7 separate regions of the Homo sapiens genome follow, and all the other regions are linked to region 7. The links come from fine-mapping of genetic effects on gene expression. A gene starts in region 7. Each other region holds a variant in brackets. All regions are shown on one strand. Distances are from middle to middle.

Region 1 (4,342 bases), 210 kb before region 7:
CAAAGAGAAAAATAGTAATGATAATGGAGGAAGCCACAGAGACCACCTTAACTAAGGGATCAAAGCTAACAGCACCAGGAAAGGAAACATCACGCATCTCCTGACAGGATGCGCAAAGACACAAACAGCAGCACCTCTGTGATCTCCAAGTTAAAAATGTACCCCCCAAATTTAATCAGGAGGAAACATCCACAAACTCTAACAGAAAGATATTCTACAAAATAACTGGCCCCATGTTCTCCAAAAGTGCGAACTTCGTGAATGACTAAAGAAAACCCAGGAAAACGTCCCAGAATTAGAAAAACTGAACACAATAAATGCCAGGTAGGATCGTCTCTTGGATCTGGAACCAAAAAAAGGGACATCAGTGGGAAAATAGTGAAATCCGAATTCAGTCTGGAGATTAACAGCACTGGAGTATGGAGTGAACACTGTTTTGATAACCGTATTACGGTTATGTAAGATGTTAACATCTGTGGAAGCTGGGTGGAGGGTGTTCCAGAACTCCTGGTACTCTTTGTAACCTTTATGCAAGTCTGAAATTATTTCAAATTAAAAAGTTAATAAACGTTTTTAAAAGTTGATAAAGCAAAAGAAAACAACTTACAGCATGATCATCAACTAAGTTGAGAAAAAGACCTTTGAACTATAAGGATACATGCAAATCAATAAATGACTGACAAACTCAAAAATCCCACCTCCAATGATACACTTAACTTTGCATTCCTTGCACTTGAACCAGAGTTACTAAAAGCCGTGCACCTCAAGATAAAGTCACTGATAGCTTAATAAATAAGGTGAATCCCTAGTTTAGAGATATGACAAACCTCTACTTTTTACAGATGATTCCTAGAGAAATACTGTTGCTGGAGTTTATTCAGGCTGGTAGAGAACCGGGCATCCCAAGTTGAGGGCCCTTTCCATTCTGACATATTGCCTAGCATTTAATTTAGCTTAGATTTGTCTTCCAGCGAGGTGCAAGTGGGAAGTTAAGATGGTTGAAGGATGCAAAGAGGAACAGTCAACAAAATGCACGACAGAAAATTATGTGCGACTCTCCTGGATCCTTGTGACAACTCCTTGTCCTTTTTCTTCAAATGTAGTGAGAACTGTGTTTTTCTAACTTGCCCATATACCCTGCTCTATCATCTGCTACAGATAATATATGCTTCTGCTCTCTGCATGTTATACATAAAACAGATCAAATTCTTTCAACAGCAAAAATCTTTATTGCATTAGCAGAAATTTCCCAGCATCATAAGCCCTACAGTTTCCTGATCCACCACTATGTGGTAGGGAAGGCAATAAAAAGAGTTTGTCAGGGTTTCACCCAAATCTCATCTGAAAAGCTTGATCTACTTTTTTCCGGAGACCAGCCCCAAATGAAATGATCCTCATTGGGGAATAACAAAAAATTGAGGCCAAAAGTGAATGTGAAAAGCTACCATTTTTATTTTGTGTTCCCAGCATTATGGGATATGCAACAGAAGATGAGAATTCTGCTGTCAAGGAATGTACAAAATCCTTTTAGGTACATGTGCCCTATTTAGGCAGTATTACTGAAAGGAAAGGAGTGAGCGTACCATGGATTTGGTCCGTGCCTTGTACCAAGAGCCATGCTAAGGCTTCTCTGATTACATCCCCATAAGCTCCTTTTTACAGAAAGGAGACTAAGGTGCAAAGACTTGCTGACTTGTCCAGCATCAGAGGCTCAGAGGTGGTAAAGACGGGATACAAACCCAGAATGTCTTCACCCCAGGATCTAGGCTCTGTCAGACCATGCTGTCTCCCAAATGAAAACAAGTTTTGCTTGCAAAGGCTGCAACAACTAGGAAGTATGTAGTAGAGGGTGGAAAGCTAATGTCCCCTAGAAGCAGGGCCTAACCTGAGAACTGCGAGAGAGGCCATGGAGGTTGGGGTTATGAACACTAAGGAGCACCAGCGCTGCATGCAGAGGGTGTAAGGGTCCTCCCTACGCGGGTCAGCATGGTGAAAGAGAAGGACTAGGAGGGCGGAGCTAATAGTAGGAGGGGAGAAGACCGATAACAAACTTCTTCAGAATGTCCCTGCATGTATATTTATCTGAGAGGAAGGTGTAAGGAGGCCCTTCTAAAATACTATGTCATTGAACTAGGTGTGCCAAGGTCTTGTATATAGCACATCAAGGGGAAAGTGCATTCATTTGGAAGATTTGTTTTTTCACTACTGAGTTGGGCTTCGATGTGGGTAAATGAGTTACATTCATTTAAATTATTCCAGCAACTATCATGAGAGAGACAGACTGAGACGGAGAGATGTTCAGAGAAAGACAGAGACATAGATGGAGGGAGGGAGGGAGGGAAGAAAAAGAAAAAAAAATCATGCAAAGGAATAAATTTATCACACATTTATACCTCACCTTTCCAGAACTCAACTATTCAGCAAATAAACATTTCTGGGGTAGTCAAGCACCAGGAAGAAGCTTGGTTTCACTTACTGCCTATTTACTCTTAACACATAACTCTAACAAGCTTAGAAATCTGTTTTCAAAGCACTCACAGCAAAAAGGAAGTGGCAAATAATCACCTACAGAGG[G/T]GCTGATGGAGACGGCTTTCTCTTCTTACTGAAATAAGTCTATTAAACAGAAATGGAGACATAAAAATGGTAAAACCAAACCATAAGAACACAATAAGCACAAGAAACCTTCAGCAGAGGGCAAACTGCCTCCCACTCAGCCTTGAGGGTATCACTGTATTATGCATAATACAACAATTTATGCTCGCTGATGTCCTCAAGTTGGCCAGAAATGACTAAATTATATTCACTGGAGTAAGAAGCAAAGAAGTACAGAATACATGTTGGAAAGATTTCCAGCATGATAGTGCACAAAAACTGGTGCAGTAGTCTCAGTTCTCCCTAAGGCTTTAATGTATTTCATCATCTGGTCATTGCTCGATCTGACAAATATTTACTGAGCATATTGGAGAGACTTGCTGTGAGAGGCCTGGCTCCTGCTTTCACGGAGTTCAAAATCTACTAAGAAGCTGAGATACTCAAGATCCACATTTCTACTAGGATGGTCTGTACAAGGGTTTGGATTGTTGTACTAAGTGCTGCGCACTGACTCCGAAAATCATGACTTATTTTTGGATATGAGCAACTGAAATTGGCCTAAATGTTAAGAAACGGTGTGCCATTTCAAAAGTCTTTGATCATACAGTTCAGAGTCAAGGATCAGTCAATACTTCAAGAAACTCCAGCCTGGCCAACATGGCGAAACCCCGTCTCTACTAAAAATACAAAAATTAGCCAGGTATGGTGGCACATGCCTGTAATTCCAGCTACTCGGGAGGCTGAGGCAGGAGAATTGCTTGAACCCGGGAGGTGAAGGTTGCAGTGAGCCGAGATCGCGTCACTGCACTCCAGCCTGGGTGACAGAGCAAGACTCCATCTCAAAAGAAAAAACTTCAAGAAACTACCCATGTGGTCATGAAACCAAGAAGCAAGGCATGCTGCTTTGGCTGCACAAAAATATACAGTACAGAAGACCAACAGAACCACAATTCCTGAATTTCTTTCTCTTTATTGAAGAAATTAATTCTAACACATACACCTTCTTATATTTAGGCTAGGACATCTTATAACTAAATCAATCTATACAGTTAATCATGCATTTAAGAATGTGTGTGTTTGTTTTTTAAAGTGATATTTATTAAAAGGAAAAATCCTGGCTATCTGGACACTGAGAAATGCACAAGCTTGCAAAAACCGTAATTTAATCAGAAAACCCAGATACAGTAAAGTTACTTTTCATTTTCTTTTTGTTTCAGAAACCTTGCAAGAAGTTCTTTCCCTTCTTGAGGGCAAAGCTTACGAACTGGAAAGTTTCATTTTAATGGGTTCTTTCTTGGGGCAAAAACATGCAACACCAAATATTCTAGAGTGTCTGAGTGCAAACATCGCAGATGCAGTAGTGCAAAGGAAAAGCAAACACTTTAAAATCAAGTATGTCTTAGTTCAAATCCTGTGTTTACCACCTGCGAAGTGTGTGAGGTAGACAATTTATTTTTCCAGGCTTCCATTTGTTCTTCCGTAAAACAATGTTGGTAGAATCTACCTCATCGGCTGTTGCAAAACTAAATGAAATGTGCTTTCAATACACTGGTCATAATTATGCAGGTGGACATGCTGAATTTTTACACCGATCTCAATATACATGGGCTTTGTAACTGCAATGATAGCTCAGTGGAGCTCAAACTGGATGTGTTTCTAAAAGTCCAAAAAAAGTTTGGACTTTTTTTTTTTTTTCCTCCATTATGACATTTTACTTCTTGCTTAGATGAGAAGCTAAACCCTCCCCGGA
Region 2 (4,342 bases), 100 kb after region 7:
GGAGGTGGAGGCTGCAGTGAGCCATGACTCCACCACTGGACTCCAGCCTGGGCGACAGAAGGAGACCCTGCCTCTAAAAAGAAAGAAAGAAATACACATTTCTGGGGCCCAATCTAGAGCGATCGAACATAATTCTGGGCGTCGGGCTCAGCGCTCTGAGTTTTGACAACCCCCCTACGCCCAGCTCATTTGAGAATGCCGGTCTGAGATGACTGATTCCCAGCTTGGAACATTTGAGTTACTGAGGTGATTGATTCTAAGAGTCAGCTGGAGCCAGGACTAGCAGACTGGGAATACATTCGTTTAACAATGGAATACCATTTTCAAATCATCATGCATTTCTTTTCTGGGTGCCATCTCCTGTGCAGGGGAGGACTGGAAAGACAGGGAAATTCTGGTAGCCTTGGGAAGGCAGAAGGGTGGGGCTTGGCTGGCCAGGGGACGGGCGCGGAGGGGGAGGGAAGAAGAGGAGGAAGCCGCGGGGCCTCACAACCCATCTGGTTGGAAACGTCCTGCAGTGCCGCCCGAGCCGCAGGAACCGGAGCCAATTACAAGTTTATATAATAGAGTCAGTCTCCCCGGGCCTCCCCTCTCCGCCCCACCCCTGCCGGCTTTGGGGATGGGGGAGGAAACGCTTTCCGTGAAATACAGGCTGGATCTAGGACGGAGGATGCCTTTTCTGGATTGACAACTAGGGGCCAGTCCTGAGTGTGAGAAACTCCTGGGGTCCTGTTTTGGGATCCGGACACCTCGGGCGCCGCGCAGGCCTCCTTGTGCCTCGGGAGCGGCCCCGCCTACGGAACGGGACCTGGAAGGGAGGTGTCCGGGTCGAGCGTTCGCGCTGCTCCCCGCCGCACGGTGTGAGCTCGCCGGGTTTATGTAACGCCTGCCCTTCGCGGAGGACCGTGTCATGTCCGAATCGCGGAGGACGGAGGAGGCGGGGGCCTGGGCCGCGACGCCCGCCCACGTGACCGTCAGATGACTGGGGTCTAAGTTTGCACGAGCTCCTTTACCGTAACGCTGAAGGCTCCTCATCAACATCGGCTCTTAGTCATCCCCGAGTGACATTTGATATGAGCAACAGCTCAGGACGGGGAAATGGCAACGCGGATGCTGATGGAGACGAGGAACGGCTGCTGCGACCGCCTCTGATTTGGGCTGGAACGGGAGTTTATGCGGAGTCAAGGAAACCCACCGCGAAGGGTGCCAGGGAAGACCAGGGCACTTTTCTAGACAAAGAATCTTAGATTCTTTGGGGCTAGATGCAGAGAGTCCGGGAGAAACTGTTCACCGGGTGCCAGGCAGGCGGCTGACCACGCAAGCCACGCTTCAGATTTGTGGGTTGGTTTTAGAAGTCACATGAGGTCTGCCTGGACGCCCCTCCCGATCACGTCAATTATCTGTCACAACTTCTCTGTGCGCCCCAGGGACCAGCCCCATGCCCCCAGCGGGGGAGTTGGTTACAGCTGCAGAATCCCGGCCCCACCCCGCCTCCAGAGCACGAGCCTGCGCTAGAAGGATATCACCAGGGGATGGGGGGGAATGCGAGGGGGGCGGGGAGGTGGTCACGGATGCAGAGGCTGTCCTGGCTGCTGAGGCAAAAAGCCCGTCCCAAGCCCTGCATGGGCTCCTACTGCACTTCAGGATTTGGGGGAATGCAGAATCGTGGTCTTTGAGTTTTCATTAATTCAATAAAGATTTCTCAAAAGCCTAAATTCTAGACCCAAGACAGTGGGAATTAAACAGGGCTGAATATGACGCTATTGGCTATACCAGGACCACGCCTGAGCATTGCATGCACGCTCCAGCTATGCATAACTTATTTATTTTAAAAGAAGGAAGGAAGAGAGGGAGGGAAACAA[G/T]GTGTTTCTTAAGAGTAGAGGAGGGGAGAGGCAACTTGTTGCTTTCACTGGCAACAGTTAACTCCATAAGCAATTTCCTCACTTAAAAGAAAAACAAATGAAGTAGAGTGGTAGGCTTTTGAAAGGAGGAGCAGAGAGCTCCGGTGAGTGGAAACCTAGCTTTTATTCACCTTAGGGCCTTGTTAAAACACATTTGCCTTGAGATAAAAGGGTTTCTTTTGGGACGATCCCAAAATGACTTTGCTTGATTCAATTAAGCAAGACCTAACGAAAGAGAATTCCAGCTTAAGATACGCATCATCTCACCAGGTGAGTTGTAAATACATTCTGACCAGGTTTCAGAGGCAAGCTCTTGAAAATTTAATCTATTTAAAAACTGCATATCCTTGCCACAAATTGCTTTGAAGAAGATCGCTGAGCTGATTGCATGCTGAGATAATTATTCTGTATCACCACTTAGGGAACAAGATTTTTTGATAAATACTACAGTGTCAGTCTTTGTTAATGACTTGGGAGGGGAAGGAAAGGATTCGATATAGCTGAGGCTGGTTTTATTTTCTTGCCTCTTTCCCATGAACGCAGGCTGTGGGAAGCAGGTAGAGTCTTGGTTTATGAACTCTGAACGCTATTGAGTAACCTATTCACCTGTCAAATCCCTAATCCCCGCATGAAGGTGTACAGATGGTATTGGAGTAGAACACGAAACTGAGAGGTGAAGCCAGCCGGACTTCTGGGTCGGGTGGCAACTTGGAGAACTTTTATATCTTACAAGAGGATTGTAAAACGCACCAATGGGCGCTCTGTAGCTAGCTAGAGGTTTGTAAAATGCACCGATCAGTGCTCTGTAAAAATGCACCAATAGGCGCTCTGTAGCTAGAGGTTTGTAAAATGGACCAATCAGCACTCTGTAAAATGGACCAATCAGCAGGACATGGGCGGGGACAGATAAGGGAATAAAAGCTGGCTACCCCCCAGCCAGCAGAGGCAACCTGCTTGGGTCCCGTTGCATGTTGTGGGATATCTGTTCTTTTGCTCTTCACATTAAGTCTTGCGGCTGCTCACTGTTTGGGTCTGTGCCATCTGTAAGGGCTGTGACACTCACTGTGAAGGTCTGCGGTTCCATTCTTGAAGGCAGCGAGACCAGGAACCCACCAGAAGGAACAAACCCCAGACACAAAACCAGTCTCCACCTGCGCAGGGCCCTGCCTGTGCCTTACCTGCTTCCCCTCCTGGAGACTCCCACCTGTGAATGGATAGATGGTAGTGTGTTGCTGGGTGCTGATGGGGGAAAGCCCTAGCCTGTACCCCCGTTATGGATAATATGGAAGTCAGGGTTCTCAGGTGCTGGTGAGCCAGGCCTCCCCACATCCTACGTATGACAGCACAGGCTCATTTCTCAGTGCTCTGCCCCACTGAGCCTGGATGTGACCTCAGAGGAGTCCTTAGCACTGTGATTAATCTCTTCATGCTTTTCTTCCTTTTTTTTTTAGACAGGGTCTCTCTCTGTCATCCAGGCTGGAGTACAGTGGCACCACTGTAGCTCACTGCAACCTCCGCCTCCTGAGGTCAAGTGATTCTCCCACCTCAGCCTCCCTAGTAGCTGGACTACAGGCGTACACCATCACACCCAGCTAATTTGTGTATTTTTTGGTAGAGACAGGGTTTCGCCACGTTGCCCAGGCTGATATCCCAACTCCTGGCATCAAGAGATCTGCCTGCCTCAGCCTCCCAAATTGCTGGGATTACAGGCATGAACCACTGTGCCTGGCCTCATTCTTTCAATAACTTAATAAATACTTATTAGGAATCTATTCTATACAAGTCGCTGATAACATAGAAGAAAAGAGAAAGAAAGAAATATAGATGGATGAATGGTGCATAGAAATAATACAAAGCACTAGGACAATGGTTAGTGGTTGGGAGGAGTAACTTTAGATATTGTAGTCAAGGAAAGCCTCTCTGAGGAGGTAACATGAGGAAGAGTTATTTCAAAAGCCAGAGGGGAAAGCCAGGCCCAAACAAAACAACAAAACAGGCCGGGTGCGGTGGTTCACACCTATAATCCCAGCACTTTGGGACGCCCAGGTGGGCAGATCACAAGGTCAGGAGTTTCAGACCAGCCTGGCCAATAAGGTGAAACCCTGTCTCTACTAAAAATACAAAAATTAGCCAGGCATGGTGGCGTGTTCCTGTAGTCCCAGCTACTCAGGAGGCTGAGGCAGGAGAATCACTTGAACCCAGGAGGCAGAGGTTGCAGTGAGCCGAGATCATGCCACTGCACTCCAGCCTGGGTGACAGAGCAAGATTCCATCTCAAAAACAAAAACAACCAAAACAACAACAACAACAACAAAAACTGTGTGTGCAAAGGCCCTGAGGCAGGAATGAACCTAACATGATCAAAAACCTGGCTCAGAACATGGACCCAGTGAACCACTTTGGACACTTGATGGGCATTTGATGGGTTGCCTCCGTGTGATC
Region 3 (4,342 bases), 310 kb before region 7:
ATGTGTATGCAAATGTTTCATGGTCTAACATAGAACTGTAAGACCCATGAAGAAGTCCTAGGAACAGAGAAAATGTCAACAAAGCTTAGAATGCTTGAATCCATTGACTGCTTTTCTTCTTACTGCTGTTGTGGTGTTTGAATTTCTTTCCTTGCAAACCTGCATCAACAGTGGGGCTGAGTCCCTGGAAACCCCTTCCCATCTGTGTCCTTGGGGGCGGGCGGGGGAGCTGGGGCTGGGAGAGAAGCAGGCATGGGGCCCCTTGACTCCAAGCCTGTCCGCCAGGCTGCTTCGGGGCCCATGGCCACCAGATTCTTGGGGGTTGGGCAGGGGGCTGGGGAGGCAGGGCAGGGAAGCCGGTTCAGCTTCTCCCCACCTTCACTGAGAGAAAGACCTATTGTGTCCAGTTCCCCCAAATAATAATCTAGTCAGAAGCAATGAGACCTGTGTGCCTGTGGCCTTGAGCAGCACAGCAGGGGCAGTCGGATGGACGGAGTGTGTCGCCAGCGTGTCTCTCAAATGGAGCAACCAGCTGCCATGCTCACCCATGCCTCCGGACACGAGGAATCAGCGCCGGGCCGATGAGGGAGAAAGTTCAGGATTTTGGCAAAATTAGGCAGCGTTAAAATGGTAACAGCCTTGGATGAACGATGGCCCTTTGTAAATTTCATGTCCCTAGAAAGGTGAAAGATAAAGGTAAAAATTTCCATCTCCACGTGTTTTTTTGTAATGACCCACGGTGTCAGGCGGGTGTGTACAGTGGTTGGATGGGGCCACAGGGACAGCCACTTCCTCAAACTGATAAAAAGGGCTTCCCAGCTGGACTTGTGGCAATTATTTTTCCGTTATGAAGCAGAGAGGAGAGAGAAAGGGAGAACAGGGAAGGACAGGGACAGAGTGAGGAGACTGGTTCTCAAGTGCTCTGTTGCTATTAAGTGTTGTCATTAAGGTTCTTAAAGGCCCATGTCAGTTAAGGGTTTGGGCAGGGAATAAAAAGCTGCTTGCATATTGAAAAAAGGAACATCCCAAATGTGTTTTACTGCAGAGAAGCTGTCTCCCGCGGGCAGCAAGGGCAGTTCTGAAGATCCACTGAGGTACAGGAGGCTTGTGAATGGATTGTTAAAACTCTCTCTCCCCCCCCACCCCGCTGCGCGTGCGCACACGTTACTGTTTGCACAGATTCAGGATCCAAGGATCAGCAGGTCGAAGACTGGGGCAGCGGCAAGGCCCGCTCGTTCTTGCGGCCCCCGTTCATGTGGGCGTAAGGCTGTCTCTCGTCGAAGCTGGCGCGGAGGACCAGCACCCCAGGGCCGGGGCCGTTCTCGGCCTTGTGTCCTGAGTGTCTGTCGGGCAGTGGCAGGGAGGACGAGGAGGCCGAGGGGTCCAGGGGGACGCTCTCCATGTTCTCTGGCTCCAGGTCCAGCTCCTCCGGCTCGGGCAGCTTGTTCTCCTCGCTGTAGTAGAAGGAGACCTCCCGGAAGCCAGGCTCCATCTCCTCTTTGATGCTGCTGATGATCTCCAGGAAGGAAGGCCTCATCTTGGGGTTATACTGCCAGCACATGCGCATCAGTTCAAACCTGCAGCCAAGACACACGGGAGGGGGTCCAAACCGGGAGGGCGCACATGGCCAGGAGGCTTCATGGGCCGCCTGCAGTGGTTTCCCGCATACAAGCGTACGGCGGGAGCACTGAACACAGCCCTGCTGCCCCTCTCCATCCCTGGCTTTCTGCCTGGATGGCCAAGTGGCCTTCAGAGTCTCCTGTTTTACCTCGTACGGTTCCATTCTCTTCCCCCAGAACCCAGAACCACCACGGTACAAAACCCAAACTCTCCTTTCCCAAGAAGGACTAATCCAGGTCCACACTGTCCATCGTGACAGCTGTTATCTATGGTGGCAGTGCTAAGAAACAAAAATAACCAGTTTTCTATCTGAGGC[G/A]TCTCATGCAGGCACTGCTGAAACATCCTTTCCAGAATTAGCAGGAAACCCCTGGTTTCTCACCAGGAAGGCTGATGAGTGACCGCAGCTTCCCCAACAGTGCTCTCTCTCCGGTTCCCACCTGTGCTATTTCTAAGCTTCCTCCTGGTGCAGGGCTACCCCTGGCAGACAACCAAAGGAAGAAGGCACTGTGAGGCCAGGCTTGCAACACGAAGAAATGCACACTCCGAGTCTGCTGTCTCCATCTAGCACGTGCTCGCTCCAGCCCTGCACAAGCAAGCCCCAGCCGATGAGCCAGGCTGTTCTGGACCAAACGAGAGGCCCCGTGTAGACCTGAAGCCAGATTCCAACAAGCCAGCAAGGAGAGCCCTGGGCACGAGTCCCCTCCACACGCAAGGGACAGGCAGAACAGGATGACGCTTGTGCTGTGTGTCGGTCGCATCGGCTGGGCTCCGACAGCACCTGGGCTGCAAATACCTGTGAGGCCCTCAGAGTCACATGGAGCAAAGGGAGTCCTGCCGGCTGTGGCCGGGGCTCCCCAAGAAAACAGCCGGCCACACGTGGACAAGGAAAGCCGGCTGCCCTGACCCAGGAAAGGCCCGGGCTTTGACAAGCTTCCAGAATGCAGAGACCCAGCTAAACAGACTTTTGGGGCAAAAAGCAGCTGGCTACCATCCAGGGCTGGCCATAGTTCTGAGGAGTGACCGCCAACAGCCCTCTCTTACATGAGCGTGAAACCAAAGTGCCTTCCTTTCCACGTCTGTTCTCACCAGGAAGTTATCCTCTTTATTTTAAAATTCTGGCTAAAGAGATGCTTTTCCATAAAAGTGGCCACACAGAACTCTCCACATCTAGGAAACTCAAAGCACACCCAGTGGCATCTAGCCTCCTGTCAGGGTGGCTGCTTGACCACAGACTACCTGCCCGTGTCTGGCCTTCAGGGAACATTCCAAGGGGAGGCCCCTGATGTAAGAGAAGCCACTGGGCCTGGAAGCTGGCCTGCCAAGAGAAGGGCTCCTATGGCCACCTGGCAGCTTCCTTCAGGTGGAGAAGGTGCAACCTTGAGGGAGGGTGGGCCTGGGTGTGAGGGAGAGCCATCCAGAATTCACTAGAATTCAGCGTTCTAGAGCCCGGGGGCCTGCGTCTCCACAGGGCCTAACCCGGGGCTGCCCGCCTCTACATCAGCTGCACTGGCATGGGGCCACGCTCCCTCATTTCCATGTGGGCTGCAGCTGCTTTCCAGCTACAACTACCAGCTGAGGACATTAGGACAGAGACTGTGGCCTGCAAGTCTAAAAATGTTTATTTACCACGTCGCCCTTTAAAAGAAGGAAGGGTGCAGGTTCCTGTTCTGGGGAGAAAAGAATTAGACAAAATATGAAGGCCCCCACAGTATGCTTCTTAGATTTGGAGAGTTCCATGTGGCCACTTTTATGGAAAAGTATCTCTGTAGCCAGAATTTTAAAAGTCTACCCCACGGTAGAATGCCATGTGCACGCTAGGTGCCAGGCAGCGAGGCAGTTATGTGTGTGAACTGCTGAAGTCCTCACGAGTTTGTGAAGCAGGTGCTACTGACTATAATATACCCCCATGTTACAGATGAGGGAACAGAAGCACTAAGATACTAAATAATTTGTCCAAGATTACAAAATTCATGAGGGTGGAGCTGGGATGGAGTTCTCTGCGCAACAGAATGACTACACTTTGATCACCAACGATCCTGGAAAAAGGAATTTTTCTCAACCTAAATAAGAGTAACCCTGGGGCCACCAGGAGACCCTCCCTCACCTAACTGTCCAAGGAACAGTCACAGATGTCACAGGGATGTGGTTTGCATTGATAAAAGCTGGCAGCTTGATGACAAATAAGCCTGCCTTTCCAAACTCCCCATCACTTCCTAAGAAAAATGATTGGGGTTAAAAAAATTAAAATAGGCCATAACGACATGAAATGCCTGGGCTGTGAATTCCTCTCCAGCTGACTTACCCCTGGGCAGAAGCGTAACTGGGCCAAGAGCATGAGATGTGCTTGGCTCTGTGCCCTGTGGCCAGGGACCGAGGAGGTGCCACAGGAGAGCAGCGAGGCAGTGACATCAGCACAAACAAGCCATGTGACGCCTCTTTTAAACCATTCCAGAGTAACAACCCTTCCAGTGCTGCCCATGAAAGGAAGTCTTTTTTGCTCTGTGGGATTCAAGACCTTGTTTACTATTTCCACACACACAAAAAATCTCCATTAGACTCTAGAAGGATGTGTGAGCTGATAAAACTCATCTTTTAAAAAGCACAATTTTTTTTTTTTTTTTAACCACAGGTCAGTTCTGGGGAGGCTGGCGCCATCCTTCTCGAATGCTCTCCCCTTTGGGGGACACATACCCAGCCCTTCTCCTGGAACAGGGACAAGACT
Region 4 (4,342 bases), 400 kb before region 7:
TAGAAGAGGTTTCTAAATGTTTACCATTGCATTTAATGAAATGTTTTAAGGTATGGACTGAATATTTCATTACTTTCAAGATTGCTAGAAAAATTGGAGAGATTGGCCGGGCGCAGTGGCTCACGCCTGTAATCCCAACACTTTGGGAGGCCAAGGTGGGTGGATCACAAGGTCAGGAGATCGAGACCATCCTGGCTAACACGGTGAAACCCCATCTCTACTAAAAATACAAAAAATTAGCCAGGTGTGGTGGTGGGCACCTGTGGTCCCAGCTACTCGGGAGGCTGAGGTAGGAGAATGGCGTGAACCGGGGAGGTGGAGCTTGCAGTGAGCCGAGATGGCGCCACCGCACTCCAGCCTGGGCGACAGAGCGAGACTCCGTCTCAAAAAAAAAAAAAAAAATTACATGTAAGTTTGGTATCCATCTTGCATTATTTTTTTAGGTGGGGAACACAGTTCTCCCCAGTTCCCACAATGGGGATATCCAGTGGCTCCAGTGTCCCTTCCTGAAAAGTGAAGGTTAGCTTTCAAGTGTCAAAGCAATCCTGGTGACTGTATCTTACTATCAGCAAGTGTCTCTAGGTGCAGTGCACGCTTAGGGCAACATTCATCATTAAGGACAGTTCATATGAACCCTTATTTAAAAGACTATACTTGGCAATTATAACACTGTTTGGACTTCACTTCTAATCTGATTAGTTCATCATTGTTTTTATCTTTCAATGCAGCTAAGAGCTTATAGTAGGAGTAAGAGAAGGGCCAGTTCTACAGATTTGTTTGGTTTCCTTATGTTTGCATTATTATAGGATATAACATACATATTATATAGTGTAACCTTTTAGTATGTGATAATATTCCACATCTTTTTAAGCTACTCATTGATTTTGTTAAAAATCTCCACATTGATGAGGGTTTGTCTCTTTCTCTGTATAATTTTGTCTTTTATTTTTTTGAGACTGATTCTCGCTCTGTCGCCTAGGCTGGAGTGCAGTGGTGCAATCTCGTCTCACTGCAGCCTCTGCCTCCTGGGTTCAAGTGATTCTCCTGCCTCAGCCTCCCAAGCAGCTGGGATTTCAGGCATGCGCAATCATGCCAGGCTAATTTTTGCACTTTTAGTAGTGACAGGGTTTCACCATGTTGGCCAAGCTCGTCTCAAACTCCTTACCTCAGGTGATCCACCCACCTCGGCCTCCCAAAGTGCTGGGATTACAGCCGTGAGCCACCGCACCTGGCCTAATTTTGTCATTTTTTACTTGATGTATTTTGAGGAAATGATACTAGGTACATATACATTTTAAATTATTATATAGTCCTGTTGAATTCAATCTTTTATCATGAAGTGATTGTCTTATCTCTGCTAAAACTATTGTCCATAAAGCATATGTTGTTTGATACTAATGTGGCCACATCAGCTTCATTTTGTGATTTCTTCAATCTTTTAATTTTAATTTTTGTGGGCTTTTATTTTAGATGTTTTTCTTGAAAACAGCATATAGTTGAAATTTTGAAAAATCACCCTGTCATTGTCATTTAACTGGAACATTTAACCATTTACATTTTGTGATATATTTGGTTACATTTGTTTGTTTTGTTTTGTTTTGTTTTTGTTTTTGAGACAGGGCTCTGTCACCCAGCCTGAAGTGCAGTGGCACTATCTCAGCTCACTGAAACCTCTGCCTTCCTGGTTCAAGCAATTCTTCTGTCTCAGCCTCCTGAGTAGCTGGGACTACAGGCGTGCACCACCACGCCTGGCTAATTTTTATATTTTTAGTAGAGATGGGGTTTCACCATGTTGGCCAGGCTGGTCTCGAACTCCTGACCTCAATTAATCCACCCACCTCGGCCTCCCAAAGTGCAGGGATTACAGGCATGAGCCACCACCTGTATTTGGTTACATTTGGCACTTTATTTTGTGCTTTCCAATTGTTCTACCTTGTATTAGTTTCCCGGGTATGGCTGTATTAGCCTGGGGTCTCCAGAGAAACAGAACCAATAGGATACATATGCCAATAGGACAATTAGGTAAATGATTGATTGATAGATAGATGATGGATAGATAGATAATAGACAAAGATATTTGCTATAAGAAATTGGCTCATGTGATTATGAAGGCTGAGAAGTCCAAACTCCAGCAAACTGGAGACCCAGGAGAGCTGATGATGTCAGTTCCAGTCTGAAGGCAGGAGAAAACCAATGTCCCAGCTCATTCTTTCCTACTCATCTTTTCATTCCATTCAGGCCTTCAGTGGCTTGGATGAGGTTCACTCCTATGAGGAAGGCAATCTGCTTTACCCAGTCTACCAAATCAAATTTAATCTCTTCCAAAAATCCCTTCCCAGATACATTCAGAATAATGTTTCATCAAGTATCTAAGCATCCTGGGGCTCAGTCACATTGACACATAAGCTTACCCATCACATTGCCATAAGAAAGTGTTGCAGACGGGGTGGCTTAAAATGACAGAAGGTCATTATCCACATTTCTTGAGGCTACAGGTTTGAAATCAAGGTGTCAGCTGGGCCATGCTCCCTCTGTAACTCTGGATAGAATCCTTCCTTGCATCTTCCGAGCTTCTGCTGGTGGCCACCCATCCTTGGTGC[A/G]CTTGGCAGGCAGTTGCATCACTTCCACTGGCCCTGTGGTCACATGGACTCCTTCCCTTTGTCTGTCTCTTCTCTTCTTATAAGGACACCAGCCATATTAGGTTAGGGCTCACCTTAATTCAGCATGACTTTATCTTTACATTGGCAAAGACCTTATTTCCAAATAAGGTAACTTTCACAGACACTGGGGCTTTGGATTTCAACATATCTTTTTGGTGAACTCAATTCAACCCGTAATATACCTGCTCCATGCCTCTTTTTCTCTCCTTTCTTGCCTAAAAATGTGGGATAAGTTTTATTATTTCATTTATTTTTTCTACTGCATTGAGAGTTATATATTCTATTTCTATTCTTTTAGTTGCTATTCTAGAAATTATATATATTTGCATGTATACAATATGCACATTACAATGAAGTATATTTAAAGGTAATCAGTACATTTGCCCTCTCCCAGGACAATAGAAAGGTTTTAGACCACTTTAATTCCACTTGCCCTTCTTCCAACCTTATGTAGCATTATTGCCATGTATTCAAATCTATGTTTTAAAATAATCTTCTTATTGTGAAGAAAGCCCAGAGACAGAAAGCCACATGAATCAAATGTGTGGCTTACTGAATGATTTTAAGATAAACATCATTCAAGTCAGAAATAAAATTTTGCCAGTCTTCCCAGAAGCACCTCTGTCTGCTTCTTCCCAATCACAAACCCTCTTTTATCTCTTAAGTAACCACTGTGCTGGTTTCTATACTTATTAGTTCCTTTAAAAATAATTTTATTTGGCCAGGTGTGGTGGCTCACACCTGTAATCCCAGCACTTTGGGAGGCTGAGGAGGGCAGATCACCTGAAGTCAGGAGTTTGAGACCAGCCTGGCCAACATGGTAAAACCCTGTCTCTACTAAAAATACAAAAATTAGCCAGGTGTGGTGGCATGCACCTGTAATCCCAGCTACTCGGGAGGCTGGGGCAGGAGAATCACTTGAACCCAGGAGGCGGAGGTTGCAGTGAGCTGAGATTGCACCACAGCACTCCAGCCTGGGCAACAGAGCAAGACTCCATCTCAAAATAATAATAATAATAATAATAATAATTTTATCAACCAAATGGTGTATCCATAAAACTACAGCATTGCTTTGCCGAGTTAAAGAATTTAAGACTTCAAGTCTCTTTTAATCTGTAAATTCCCTCTCATCCTTTTCTTTTCCGTAGAGATAATCTCTTGGGGAACCTGGGCTCTCCCTGAGTGGTTTAGCTTCCTTCAGCTTAGAGTTTGCTGCTCACATCCTCACAGTACACTGCATTTCTCTGCCTTCTGTATTTCCAGAAATTTGGGCAGCTGGATCCAGAAACTGTATCAGATTCAGATTTGATCCCTTGGTTTGGCAAGACAATAGGAGGCATATAAAGCCCTGTTGTCTCTTTTATTGATGTTAGCAGTTGTTGATGCTTAGTGCCTACATCTAATAATTCACTGGGGATGCAAAATGGTGACATTCTATCTTTTTTATTGTTTTGTTATTTAATGGTTGTAATACTGTTCTAAGGAGATCCTTCTCCAACTGCTATCTGGTTACCCAGCAGTACAGTTCATATAGAAACGGGGATAGATGCTAGATTCTTCCTTTATTCATCAGTTTCCAAGATAATGAATTGGTTTCCTGTCATCCTCTGAGGGTGACTAGTTCTTTTTTATTGTTTCAATATTATTATGTACTCACGAATTTAAACATTATCTTTACTGTA
Region 5 (4,342 bases), 300 kb before region 7:
TTTAAAAAGAAACAAAAACCTCACATGGAGAGGATGAGTAAGGATGGATTACTCTGGCCAAACATTTCACAGAGACATTTGGCCTGAGAAACTACAGTGTGAACTGCAAATCGGAACGAAAGCATTACGGAATATGGGGTAGAATTAAGGTACCCACGGAAAAGCACAGGTCGACCAACCCACTCAGCTCCTTCCACAAGGACAAACCTCTTAGCCACGCCTGGCAAGGGAGGCGCAGGACCAGAGAGAATGGCTTTAATCTCCTAATCTCCTGTGACCCAAGAAAACAGGTATTTGAGAAGAGAACTCAGAAGAGCACGGAGGGCCCAGGAAGTACGTACAGCATGTCAGGACAGTTGTCTGGCTTGTCCAGAAGGCCGCCCTCCATGACGAAGCGAAGGACTTGCTCGTTGGACAAGCCCTGGTAGGGCTGCTCGGCCAGTGTGGCGATCTCCCAGAGGACGACCCCGAAGGACCTACAGGGAGAAAAAAACTGTGAGGAGCTTGGAAAGGGATGGACTGAACAATGCTGCCCCCTCCTTTCCAGCACTTCTTACATCCCGAGCAGATAAACTGTCCTTACTATGGTGACAGTGCTTGTCAGACAGCGAGCCAGGCCCTGGGCTAAGTGCGGGATATCATCCTCCCTCTGTTGCTGCTAATGTTCCCCGTAAACTAAATTCAGCCCCGGTGGTGGAGCTAAGGAAGGTGGTGAGGGCGCTTCCGGCATCCCTTGCACGGTCAGGAAGCCCCTGATCTGTGCTTTGAACGCAGAGCATACTGGGTTCAGCATCTACCTAGTCCCGGCCATTTATCTGGCAAGGCGGTATCACCTAACCTGGCTTTGACCCAAAAAGAATGACATTCTTGTCCAAGCCCCAGCCTGGACATTGACTTAGTAGCCTCAAATGAGGCCTGGGACAGTCAAGCTTTACCAAGCTCCTCAGGTGATTTTTACAATCAGACAATTTTGGAAACCTCTACCCAGGTGGTTCTCACTGCCGGCTGCACAGGAGAATCTCCTGGGGAGGTTTTTAAACAGAGGGCTGGGCACCCAATAGAAACTCTGATTTGATTGGTCTGGGGTGAGGGCCTGGGACCTGGAATGTTTAGAAGATCTATAGGGATCTTGAGGTCCAGTTGGGCCAAGGGAGAAGAGAACTCCTGCTGCTCCCCCACCCACAACAGAGCTGGGGAGCTGCTGGCCTGCAGGGCCTCTGTGTCACAGGTGGGGGGACCAGGGTGGGCTGCACTGGCTGGGAGGGGGTATCATGGACAAAGAATCCTTAAGCAGAGAAGTTGGCTGAGGAATAACTTTGTAGTGAGCAATTCTGCCATATGCATGCAGCTTTGCCAGTTTAGAAGATCAAACCACTGGAAAACAAAACAGAGAGTACACACACAACTTTCAGACAGAATGTTAAAAAAGACAATGCTGGAATCTGCAAAACAAATGTGCCCTCCCAGGGCAAATTCCGTAATTCACAAATTCTCCCTGACCTGTGTGCCTTTCCATGTGGTTCACTTTGGTGGAGTAAAATAGGCTACTCATCACCAAGTAGGGGCGGGAGCAGGGTGGGGAGCAGGGATTCTAGCTGGACCTGTCCTGGGCTGCAGGTGCTGGTCAAGCCACATGGAAAAACCTGGGGCAGGAGATTTCCAACCAAGAGCTCTTGGGACCTTGACCTTGTGCCCAAGCCCACAGTGCTCCTGACTGTATGAGAACGTTTTATTCGCTGCTTCAGCTACTTTCGGTGAATCAAAGATTTTTGTACAAATTGATACTAAAAGTAGATGTTAGACAGAAATAGAATCTTAGCAATCAGAGGACAGACCAACCCAAGGTCCTTTTTAATTACAAGTGACCAAGAAATGCTGTCGTCTTCATGTTGTACAAGACACCCAGAGGCCAAAAGTGCAGTTTAGAGAGGCCTGGGCCCAGGGGAGAAGGGGCTCTCCATCAGCTTTGTGCGGGAAGCTCTGCCTTCCACAACCAGCCCAGCCATACAGGCAGCATGCCTCAGATGCCAGTGGCAGTAGTACCCACACATCTGAAATGCAGCTTGGTACAAGAAATGACTAGCTCTCCAACAACAAAAAATTAAAAATAAAATAAGAAGAAATGACTAGCTCTCTGCTTTTGCTGACTGCAGGCTGGTCTGGGAAATGGCCTGAGGATGTGGCTCCCTCCCAGACCCACTTCTCCTCTTGCCCCACGTGCCCTTCCTGGCTGTGTCAG[C/T]GGCTTGCAGGCAGCCAGTTCTCACGGCACGGCTCCCACCCTGGCCCTCCCGGCCCAACTGCTCCATTCCAAGTTCCCAGTTACTGGGCTACCCACAAACTCACTGCGTCTCACACTGAACTCCGATTTGTGCCCTGTTCTTCCCCCGGCTTCCCTGCAGCTGATGCCCATTCCACCCGAGCAGTCTGCCTGCTGTCACCCATGCCCTTGGCCTCCTCGGAGTCCCACTGCGAACTGTCCACCCAGGCTCACATCTGTCCAAGGTCTGGCACCCTCCTTCCGTCCCTCAGAGCTCCCTGAGTGTGCAGGATCCTGCTTGCCTGGCCCACCACCACCTCTCCTTTGGTTACAACATCTTGCTCAATGCAGCTGTATACTCCGGCTAACAAGAACTTCAAGCACAGCTCTAATCACCCTCTGGTTCAGAAACCTTAACAGGGCTTAAAGAATTAGTCCAGGATGCCTAATACAACAGCTGAGGCCTGTCTTGATCTCTCTGCAGCCTAAGTCCCACGAGGAAACCTCACCAACCCCACCTGCAGCAGGTGCTCCCTACTGCCATGCCTGCCCAGCATTCCCACTGCCAGGAACCCCCCACCCCTGCCCCGCCCCGCCCCGCTTCCTAGTGCTCTTTTTGTGACAATCCATACTTAGGGTGCCTACACAACTTCATCTCTTCTGTGAAGAAGATGATGCAACCCCAAACTGTCAGAATTGCCTCCTCTTCTCCACAAGACTTTATCCTTCCAGGACCAGGACGACGACGACGCTGTCATCGTCGTCATCGTCATCATCGTCATCATCATCATCCCCGCATCTTCCACACCCCCAAGAGCCTTACCATCACCCACAGGCAACGATACAGGAGGTAGCAGACCTAGCTCTCCACAAACGCTTGTCGAGGTGAACTGCAAAGCCTATCTCCTGAGCAACTCTTGTCTGAGGTCAACATCACCTGCCACTGAGGACCACTGAGTGCTAGAGTCAGTCGTCCTTCACAGCTTAATGTGACAACTGCAAGGTGTGGACACTGAACCATCTCTACACAATACCAGTTGCCACAGGAGCCATTTCAACATCTATTCAGGTACCGCAGACTTCTCGAGACAGACCTTGCCTTACAGATGGAGCAACCGAAGGCCAGAGAAGCTCTGAGGTTTAACCAAGGCCACACAGCCAGTCAGAAGCACCGAGAAATATGCAACACCTCTGTGTTTTTCAAAGCCGGTATTTTACTATGTGGTGTTGGCTCTTCATGACTTCATATAAAATCAAGTCTTCCATTTCATGGACAGATTTAATCTTCAAACAGTAGATACATGTCTCTGTGTAAAGCCCTTTCTAATTAGGAACCTTGACGTTGTTTCCCCAGGGGGAAGACCGGCGGCTGTGAGTCCCCCTGCAATGCCCGTGCTGGCTGGAGGCAGCATTCAGTAACTATACTTCCCCACACCAGGAGGGGATGGTAGCAATGGCCCACTCACCAGCAAATTAAAACCTACAGAGAAATCCACATTCCCCACAGATGGTAATTAGTCATGAAAGAAGCAAATAACCTTGGCTATTTGTGACTATTTGGAAAGCTTCTTAATAAAAAATAAAGATTATGTGTTGGGTGATCCAGATGCTCGGGAAGAAGCACAGCTCTAGGCTGTGGGGTGCAGCTCCCCAGTCCTTCGTCTGGTTTCCTCCATGCCTAGAGGGCACCCTTGTCATTTCAGAGGGACATGGTGCTACAGGGAGCTGCAGGGAGAGCAGCCACAGTGCCCAAGGGCCTGGGAATGAAGTCCTGGAAGACAGCAGGAAACTTGGAGGTGTTCTGGCTAGAACAGACACACCTCTTCGATGACTCCTAGACCTATCTTATCAAGAACAGAGCAAGGTATGCAATTGTGCTACAGAGAGAAGGTCCAATGGGTGTCACACAGAGGCTGACGTAGCAGAACACGAAAGATTTGCTAAGAGCAAGGATGTCTAAAGCATGAGGCTGGCCTGCCTTTGTGAGGCAGTGAACATGGAGTCCCTGGAAGGAAACCTCTTAGCAGAAGCTCAACCAGCAGCTGTCAAAGATCTGCAGGTGCACTGGGGACTGGGCCTGACTGC
Region 6 (4,342 bases), 45 kb before region 7:
GGTTAACAATGAGCAAATGACCTACCTGGGATCACTCAGGTAATTTAGGGAGCAGAGCTGGGGCTTAAATTGAGATGACCTCACATGATTCTAGGGGTAGAAAATTCCGCTTTGGAGGTATCTCTTAAGGCTGACAAGGATGCTACAGCCAGGTGCATATGATTGAAGAGGTGCTCTCTCACACACATCGTGCATGCTGACAGCCATCTCACCAGAGTGGGCACCTCTTTAAAGCCTCTGAGAGTAGAAACCTCTGTCAACCCCAATGCCTTGACCCGTCAAAGGAGGGCAACACAGGGAGCTCGTAAAAAGCTTTACAGAGCTTCACTTTGTATCTCATAACCCACATGTAAAGGAATGAAACTGACTTACTAGGGAAAATCCTATTATTTCAGACCTTATATCCCACTGAAAAGCATACACTGTTTGCACGAGTTAACTATACTGCAGAATATCAAATTCTTGTTTTTGTTCACAACCCATAGAGGCAGGAAAAAAAATAAAGACAGAAAACACAATCTAACCCAACTACATGAACTCCTCCTGCACATACAACATTTTCCTTAGAGGACAGAAATGGATCTCACAAATTTGGAACACAAGATTTCCACTTCATCAGGCAACTGCCACTCATCACACCCTGTTTCTATTAAATCCCATTCCCTTCGTTATCTCCACACTTAGCTTTCCTTCCACGCACTGCTTACACACAGTTCAAACTTTCCCCAGCAAGCCACAGGAAAGTCGGCCTCCCCGACTTCGGCGCACCCATTCTTTATTCAGTGCTGATGCGCAGATCACACAAAGATCCCTTCATGCTAAGAAAGTTTCCACCCCACCAGAAAATCTATATTCTTCCATGGAAATTGAGAAGTACATTTTTTTCTCTTTTACAAGTTCCAGTTGAGAACAATATAATTCTCAAACAGATGGAGAGCTCAGACAAGCATGAGCAACCCTTGCCTTTAAAGCAAATCAGGCAGTGAAGTGTGAGGGGCCAAGTGTCAGTCACTGGCACCTGCATCCCCCCCACCCTGAGTCTGGCCCAGGAGCGCTGGAGGCTGAGGTCCAAAAAAAAAAAATGGGGAAAGTCAGGTGGCCACAACCACCTCACTCCAGGAAGGTGGGGATGTTCATAGAGCCACACAGCAGTTCAAGTGGGGATCCCTAAGCCTTCCTATGGCTCATCTTCTCTGAAGGGTTGACAGGCATGCTAATGGATTGTCGTGGAGGATTAATGAGCCTGCCATGGGCCAGGAACACAAGAATGAATGGTGCAGTGACATCTTTGAGGAGCCGCCTCACCCCTTTAATAACCCTCCCATTTTGTTTCCCTGCACCCTTGCGCTTCAGCACGAACTCTGTTAATTTGCTTAAAAGTCAGCAGCATGTTACATCATGTAGACACGAACAATTATGCTTTAAAAAAAAAATCCAGAGGAATAAAAGTATGCCAATTAAGTGCATAGGGATCAATGTAAATGCTCCTTGCTACCAGATAAAGGACACATTTCCAAATGGTCACCAGAAACGAGGCAGGTGCTGCCAAGCAGCATGCTGACAAAGTCAGAAATGTCTCCCATTACTCCTCTTTAGGATAGCACAAGTACAGCCTTGAAGAAGTCTACCCTTGACAGTGGGCAAAAACAGAAGACAGGAGGTCAGGCCAGGCACGGTGGCTCACGCCTGTAATCCCAGCACTTTGGGAGGCTGAGGCAGGCGCACTGCTTGAGGCCAGGAGTTCGAGACCAGCCTGACCAACATGGTAAAACCCCATCTCTACTAAAAATACAAAAATGAGCGTGGCATGGTGGCATACACCTGAAGTCCCAGCTACTCAGAAGGCTGAAGCACAAGAATCACTTGAACCCGGGAGGCAGAGGTTGCAGTTAGCCGAGATCATGCCATTGCACTCCAGCCTGGGTGACAAAGCAAAACTCCGTCTCAAAAAACAAACAAAACAGGA[G/A]GTCATTCGATCAGGGAACAAAAACATCCCTGGGAGGTGGAGACGACCCAAAAGGCAGGCAAGCCGCTGTGCCCAGTGCACCAGGGAGGCAGAAAACCCCAGGCACCCACCAAGCAAGTCTACAGCGTCCTCTGCATTCTGCAGCAGGAGGCAGGGCTGAAGGACAGCAGCCCCATTCAGCAGCTTTGTGGACCAGTCTTCCCAGGGACCTGCTGTAGAACAAAGCTCAAGGTGTAAAGGAAAACAAAACCCAAAGTCTCAAATCCCCACAACAGGGTGGTAAATCTTGCCCCTCTACATGGAAATGGCACTACTCCAAGGCAAAGCAAACGCTCCCCTGCCCGTAGCCAACATCACCTCTATGCCTGCCTCATTCTGCTCATCCAGGACCCAGCTTCCAAGACCAAACAGGTCTCCCAGCCACAGCACAGCATCCTATAGTTGCTGGATGGCACAGCAGGAAATAGCAAGGACGTTCATATGGGGTCAGGGGGGTGCTGCAAGCTCTCCCCACACAGCCCTGGGTTAGGGAACCACAGAGCATGCTCCACCAGCCCCTCCATGCTCTCTAGGCAACACCACGGGCAAATGGAACACGGGACAAAGGGACATGGGACAAAGCCTTGGCAAAATGCAATCACGCTGGAGACTAAGGATCCAGGGTCTCCCACTGTTCCACCACTCATACCTCCCCCACCCAGGCTTACCCCACCCTGAGGCCCCTACTATCTAGGGCGGGGGTGGCTACGTCTATATCCTCCCTACTGATGTCCCCATACCATCAAGCAGCTCTTACCAATGTATCAGGTGGTAAACAACAGACTCTCACTAACTCCATTTTTAAATGCTGGGGCATATGACCAAGGACATTATCTCAGGTAGTTGTTGCGGGAAAGAGCTTTTAGATAATGGCTTTGATTCCTTAAGGGTAGACCCCTATTTTGTTTATATTGTTAATGAGAGCTTGGTACTAAACAGTTTCCAAATGTTACTGGAAAGTCCAAACTCACCATCATCTTACATAAGGTTTCCAGGGTATGGTAAATAAATACACTTCTGACAATTAGAGAAATGCACACTAAGATATTTTTAGCTTGGCTGAGCATAGTGGCTCATGCCTGTAACCCCAGCACTTTGGGAGGCCAAAGGAGCAGGACTGCTTGAGCCCAAGAGTTCAAGGCTACAGTAAACTATGATGATGACACCACTGCATTCCAGCCTGAACAGAGCAAGACCCTATCTCAATCAATCTTCTTTTTTTCTTTGGAGCCAGGGTCTCACACTGTCACCCAGGCTAGAGGGCAGTGGCACGATCTCGGCTCACTGTAGCCTCAACTTCCTGGGCTCAAGTGATACTCCCACATCAGCCTCCCAAGTAGCTGGGACCAAAAGCAAGCACCACCATGCCCAGCTAATTTTTTTGTATTTTTGGTAGAGATGGGGTTTCACCATGTTGCCCAGGCTGATCTTGAACTCCTGAGCTCAAGTGATCTGCCCGCCTCGGACTCCCAAAGTGCTGGGATTACAGGCATGAGCCACTCTGTGCCCGGCCAAAGAAAGAAATATTTTTAACTTAACAGATTCACACACAAAAAAATTACCAATCTAATAACACCAAGCTTGAGTGAGGACATGGGGCAACAGGCACTCTCCTACTTTTGGGAGGAGCATATGTGTACAGCCATTTTGAAGGACAACATCTGCCAAAAAATACAAATGCCTATAACCTCTGAACAGTGACTCCTCTTCTAGAGATCCAACCCTCATGTCAGTGGGGCAAATAGATGTATGTCCCCACGCATACACTGCCTCATCCAGGTGGTGAAGGTTAACAACAATGGTGATAGGTCATGCTGACAAATCACTGAAGGGAGGGCATTTCAGCTCTGTGGTCTTGCTCCCAAAAACCCATGGTCCCAGACTAACCATAAGAAAACCATGGGCCGGGCAGGGTGGCTCACACCTGTAATCTTAGCACTTTGGGAGGCCGAGGTGGGCAATCACCCGAGGTCAGGAGTTCGAGACCAGCCTGCCCAACCTGGTGAAACCCCATCTTTACTAAAAATACAAAAATTAGTTGGGTGTGGTGGCAGGCACCTGTAATCCCAGCTACTCGGGAGGCTGAAGCAGGAGAATTGCTTGAACCTGGGAGGCAGAAGTTGCAGTGAGTCGAGGTTGCACCATTGCACTCCAGCTTGGGAGACGAGTGAGACTCTGTCTCAAAAAAAAAAAAAAACAAAAAAAACCATGAGACAACTCCAAATTAAGGGGCAGTGTGCACAAAACCTGGCCAGTGTCCCTCGAAACTGTCAAAGTCACCAAGGACAAGGAAAGTCTGAGACCCTGTCACAGACCAGAAGAGGTGAAGGAGACAGC
Region 7 (4,342 bases):
GCAGCGGAGACGCGGTGCGGCCCAGGGTGCTGTCGCTGCTGCCTGCGCGCCGCAGGGGATCAGCGCTGTGTGCGGAGAGGCTCTTGCGCATGGAAGGGGCGAGGTGCGGGTCGCGGGGCCCGGGAACCGCGGAGCCCGCCCCGGCACCAACTTCCCTACCGAGTCCTCGCGCCTAGCCGGGAAACACGGCTGGGCTGTCAGGACGGAGAAAGAGAAAAGCCCTTCCCGCGCGGGGATGCGCGGAGCCAGGGCCCGCGGGGCTCCAGACGAACGAGCCCGGGTCCCGGGTCCGCTGCAGCCTCCCTCCCGGCAGAGCCGCCCTGCGCCCCACCCCGCCGCTCCCGAGCCCGGGGGCCCGACAGCTGCGACGGTGGCAACTCGGGTTTCGCAAACAGGGCGCAGCCCCTCGGAGGAAAAGTTCCCGCAGTGGCCGCGGGCGGCGGGCACATACTCACTTTCTCCACTCGTCGGCCAGAGCGAGAGCGCGGCGGAGAGAAACAGGAGCCCCCACAGCGAGGTCGGGGACCCTCCTCCGGAGCCAGACTTCATTCCTTTTATTTGGGATGAAATTCCCCTTTCTCAAAAAAAAAAAAAAAAAAAAAAAAGAAAAGAAAAGAAAAAAAGGAAATGAAAGGAAACAAGTCTCAAACTCAGTCTTCGCTCCCCCTCCAAAAACAAGGGCGAAGGAAACAATACTCCGAAGGCGGCGCCGCCGGGGCCCTCCGGGTGCGCGGACGGGGCGGGCGGCGCGGGGCGGCCCCTCAGCGCCGGCAGCAGCGGCCCAGGGCTCGGCGGAGTCGGGAACCCGAGGCGCGCCGGGGCGGGCTGTCGGCGTCGTCGGCCTCCATTTTCAAACCCGGAGAGGCAGGAAGGGGGGAAAACTGCAAAGAAAGGGGGCAAAGCCCAAATCTGCCTAGGCGAGGAAAAACAAGCCCGGCCCTGGCCGCGCGGGAGGCGGCCGGACGCCCGAGCTTCCGCCGCGGGAGGGCGCGACGCAGTTCGCAAGATCGCCCCGAAGTCCGGGTCACAGGCGAGGCCGGCGAGGGGCAGAAACGCGGAGTCAAAATGAATGAGCGGCTCCCCCTCCTCCTCCTCCTCCTGGCTCCGCTCGCCGCCGCCTCCTCCCTCAGCGCCGCCGCCGCCGCGGCGAGCTCCTTCCCAAATCCAGGACACACACAAAGCGGCGGGCCGGCCGCGCCGCGCTCAGCACTCCCGCCGCGCCGCCCGGCTCTGCGCCGCCGCCCGCCCCGCGCCGGCCCCCGCCCGGCCCCCGCCCGCCGCCGCCTGCTCTGCGCGGGGGCTCCGGCTCGCTGAAGGTCACAGCCGAGGCGAGGCGCGCCGTGGAGCTGCCCCCGCGCGGGAGGGGCGTGGAGGGCGCGGGGGGATCCGGGGAGCGGGGCCGAGGGTCTGCGAGCGCCGGCCGTGGGCAGGCTCGCTGGCGGCGTCCCTCTCGCTCTCCCGCCTCTCTCGAGTTCGCCTGGTGCGCTCGCTCCTCCTCGGGTTTTTTCCCTTTTTTTTTCCGCTCAGCGGAGTTAATGCTGGTAAACAAGAGCCCCAGCCTCGCCGCGCCGCCGCCGCCGCTGCCACACACTGGGGGCTCGCGCGCGCGCGCGCGCCCTGGCCCGCGCACACGCGCCCGCTCGCACACTCGAGCGGCCACCGCCGCAGCAGCGGCGCGCCGAGGGCCCGGCCCAGGCCGGCGCGCGCAAAAAACCGGAGCCCGGTTCCCCAAGACGTGCGGAGCGGAGCCCGGGCGTGGGGCGCGAGACTGCGAGGCGCCGCCCCCATCTCCCGCCCCACCGCCTCCCGCGCGCACACAGAGACACGCGCGCGTGCCCACCCGCTCCCGCCCCCACCGCACTGCGCCGGCCACCCCGCACGCGCCCTCCCCTCCCGCCCGACTCCAAAAACAATGCCCCCGCCGCCGGTCCGGTCTCGGCGGGGCAGGGGTGGGTAGCCAGGGAAAGGCTAGGCAGGGGAGGGGTGGGCAGGAGAGGGGAGGGGTGGGCGGGGAGTGCGGGGCTGGGAGAGGTTCATTGAAAACAACAACAGCGCGGCTGGAAAGCGCGTTTCCCCGGTTCTTGAAAAGCTTCATTGTTTCTTGCAGCTGTTGCAAAATAAATAAATGCGTGCATGCGGCATTTTTTTCGCTGCGTACTGGAAAGCCCGAACGTGGCGGAAGGGGCGCACCTGGGAGAAAGGGGACCCCCCCCCCAGGCTACTACGCCGGGCACTTTCACGCCAGGCTGGGGTGCCCGCGGCGTTGCGACCGTGGAGCCCGGAGTTTGGGGGCTCAGGGGGAGCGGAGGGGGAAGGGCGCGGCCCGTGTGGCTCGGCCCAGAGTGGCTCGAGGAGAGAGGACCCCGCCGCCCCTCGCGGGCCCCGCGCCCCGGAAGGGGGGCCCAGACAGGCAGCGCCGCGTGCCCCGGGCGCGTCCCCGCGGCGGCCGCCAGAGGGCGCGGCGGGCGCTGGGGAGGGCAGCCCGCGGAGAGTCGCCTCCCTCCCTCCGGGGGAGGAAATGTGGGGGCCCGGGCTGGGGGCCGACTCGGCTGGGTCGCGCTGGCGTGGCCTCCCGGACCAGCCGCCCGCCCTGAGCGCTCTCCGCGGCCTCGCGCAGCTCAGGGCTCCACCACGTGGGCGGCTGCGGGGAGCGGCCGGGGCGCGTGCACGCTGCGGGTCTCCGAAGCTCGGGGGGCGTGTCCGGGTCCCGGGGCGCCGAGGAGGGGGTGGAGGCTGGGGCCGGGAAGCCTCCCTTGGCCGCGGTCCCGACCCGGGAACACGCCGCATGCACTCGGGATCAGCGGCTACTGCGGAAACCCACCCGCACCTGTCTCGGGTCCTCCCAGGCACGTTCCTCTTGCTTCGTTTGCTACGTAAGTGACTGGAAACCAGTACCGACCCTAAGTCTCCGCGGTTGTTTTCTTGAATGTGCAGGAGGAGAGGTTTCCCCAAAGCGAGACTCCCCTAGGACTGCCATCTAATGAATAAATGCTGCGGAGACCAGGTCCTCAAAGAGGGAAACAGCCCAGCAGTGGCAGGAGAGAGGAGTTTGAAATACGTGGACTTTTACAAACAGTGATTGGACCATGTGTCGCCCTTAATGTGGTCCGGTTTCATGACTCAGGCTAATTGATGCCAGTAATAAATTTTTTTAAGATAGCTAATAAAAGAGTTGTGAATTGTCGAGATAAGAAGTGGTTGTCTCAAACAATCGGGTAGGATGGTAGAAGGGACCTGATGTAAAGGAAGGTAGTAGGTTTCTTTTACTCTCTAATTCTAAAATACTTCTGCATTAGAACGTGTATCCATCGTTCGTAAATAATTTTTTAAGAGCTGAAAACAAGTCAAAAGCTATCATAACGGAAACTTAGCCCTTTTTTTCTAAAGTTGTTTCCTAGATCATTTTCCTCCTTGGAAATTTCTAGCTCAATTCAGAGTCAGTTGTATAGAAAGAAAATAAACCTTGTTTTACCTAAGAAAGTTATTCATATGATGGGATGGTTTTGTTTAACTGAAATTCAGCTTGATTTTTAAATAAAGAGTTTCAGTTTTGGATGTTCCTAGATTTAACAGTGAAATAAATTTATTAGAATCTTAAAATGTATTATTTAAAAATTAGGCACTACACATGAAGAATTAAAGTCCAGTCTACTAATTTTTAAATATTTCTTAAGTTCTCTGCATGAGGTTGGTCTTGATTCCTGCAGATCCACTCTGGAGTTAAATGCAAAGGAATATTGATATATAATTTCATTATACTTGATTTCAGAATTTTTAATACATACTTGTAAGACAAAAATTTAGAGCTGATTTTTAAAAGGCTAGTGCTAATATAAAATCTTCAAATACTACCCAATGTATTTTTAGTATTAGTAATAAATATGCCTGTTTATTTGTCCCCAAGAACATAAAGAGGTCTATAGAATTTTTAAATGTATATAGGTTGTTGTAGGGGTTGTAGGATTTGTTTTTGTGTGTTTTTTTTTTACTAAAATGATTTTTATTTGTGAATTTTTTAAATGTTTGTGTTTTCCTGAAGTAGTAGGAAATCAATCGTATTAAGTTATTTTAAACAGTGAAGTGGGAGATGTATCATTATATAGCTTAATATTTAGGGAAAAAAAAGGAACAAAAATTTAGGTTGTCTTTACGCTCTAACTTGACCACATGGACAAAGGAGGTGATTTGTATTTCTTCAATGATTATATTTTACATACACAAGTCAAACTTATTTTTTCAACCTTGAAATAAAATCATGTAGACAAAAATTAATTGGAGTCTTTGCTTTATACCCACATTGACAATGCACCAAACTTTTTATTTTATACCATTTTACTCAGGT

Alleles and levels. Positions count from the first base shown, and alleles are read on the strand shown. Sizes are in standard deviations (SD) of each study's normalised expression. Not every link is listed here.
For the expression in non-classical monocytes of the gene that starts at base 1,592 in region 7, G is the low allele of the variant in region 2 and T is the other (large effect, 1.1 SD a copy in Schmiedel 2018).

Evidence for each region.
Region 1: its variant is fine-mapped to the expression of IGF1R in blood mononuclear cells (TOPMed, PIP above 0.99).
Region 2: its variant is fine-mapped to the expression of IGF1R in non-classical monocytes (Schmiedel 2018, PIP 0.95).
Region 3: its variant is fine-mapped to the expression of IGF1R in whole blood (TOPMed, PIP above 0.99).
Region 4: its variant is fine-mapped to the expression of IGF1R in whole blood (TOPMed, PIP above 0.99).
Region 5: its variant is fine-mapped to the expression of IGF1R in whole blood (TOPMed, PIP above 0.99).
Region 6: its variant is fine-mapped to the expression of IGF1R in whole blood (INTERVAL, PIP above 0.99).

The regions. Positions count from the first base shown.
Region 1 is chr15:98,859,025-98,863,366 of GRCh38, reverse strand. The region is part of intron 2 of IGF1R (insulin like growth factor 1 receptor); the gene reads right to left. Among named protein-coding and RNA genes, the nearest start is that of MIR4714, 77 kb to the right of the region's middle. The variant G/T (reference allele first, on the strand shown) is at 2,575.
Region 2 is chr15:98,544,984-98,549,325 of GRCh38, reverse strand. No RefSeq gene overlaps it. Among named protein-coding and RNA genes, the nearest start is that of IGF1R, 100 kb to the left of the region's middle. The variant G/T (reference allele first, on the strand shown) is at 1,863.
Region 3 is chr15:98,954,296-98,958,637 of GRCh38, reverse strand. IGF1R (insulin like growth factor 1 receptor) reads right to left here. Exons shown (of 21, transcript NM_000875.5): 21 at 1-1,577. The coding sequence ends at 1,196. Among named protein-coding and RNA genes, the nearest start is that of PGPEP1L, 51 kb to the left of the region's middle. The variant G/A (reference allele first, on the strand shown) is at 1,937.
Region 4 is chr15:99,041,360-99,045,701 of GRCh38, reverse strand. No RefSeq gene overlaps it. Among named protein-coding and RNA genes, the nearest start is that of LUNAR1, 29 kb to the right of the region's middle. The variant A/G (reference allele first, on the strand shown) is at 2,601.
Region 5 is chr15:98,944,708-98,949,049 of GRCh38, reverse strand. It overlaps IGF1R (insulin like growth factor 1 receptor), which reads right to left. Exons shown (of 21, transcript NM_000875.5): 20 at 342-476. Among named protein-coding and RNA genes, the nearest start is that of PGPEP1L, 61 kb to the left of the region's middle. The variant C/T (reference allele first, on the strand shown) is at 2,240.
Region 6 is chr15:98,691,228-98,695,569 of GRCh38, reverse strand. All of the region lies in intron 1 of IGF1R (insulin like growth factor 1 receptor), which reads right to left. Among named protein-coding and RNA genes, the nearest start is that of IRAIN, 43 kb to the right of the region's middle. The variant G/A (reference allele first, on the strand shown) is at 1,967.
Region 7 is chr15:98,645,789-98,650,130 of GRCh38, reverse strand. IGF1R (insulin like growth factor 1 receptor) reads right to left here and starts at 1,592. Exons shown (of 21, transcript NM_000875.5): 1 at 456-1,592. The coding sequence starts at 549. IRAIN (IGF1R antisense imprinted non-protein coding RNA) reads left to right here. Exons shown (of 1, transcript NR_126453.2): 1 at 1-4,268. RefSeq lists silencers at 1,568-1,837, 2,208-2,267, 2,328-2,797, 2,808-2,857 and an enhancer at 2,869-3,490.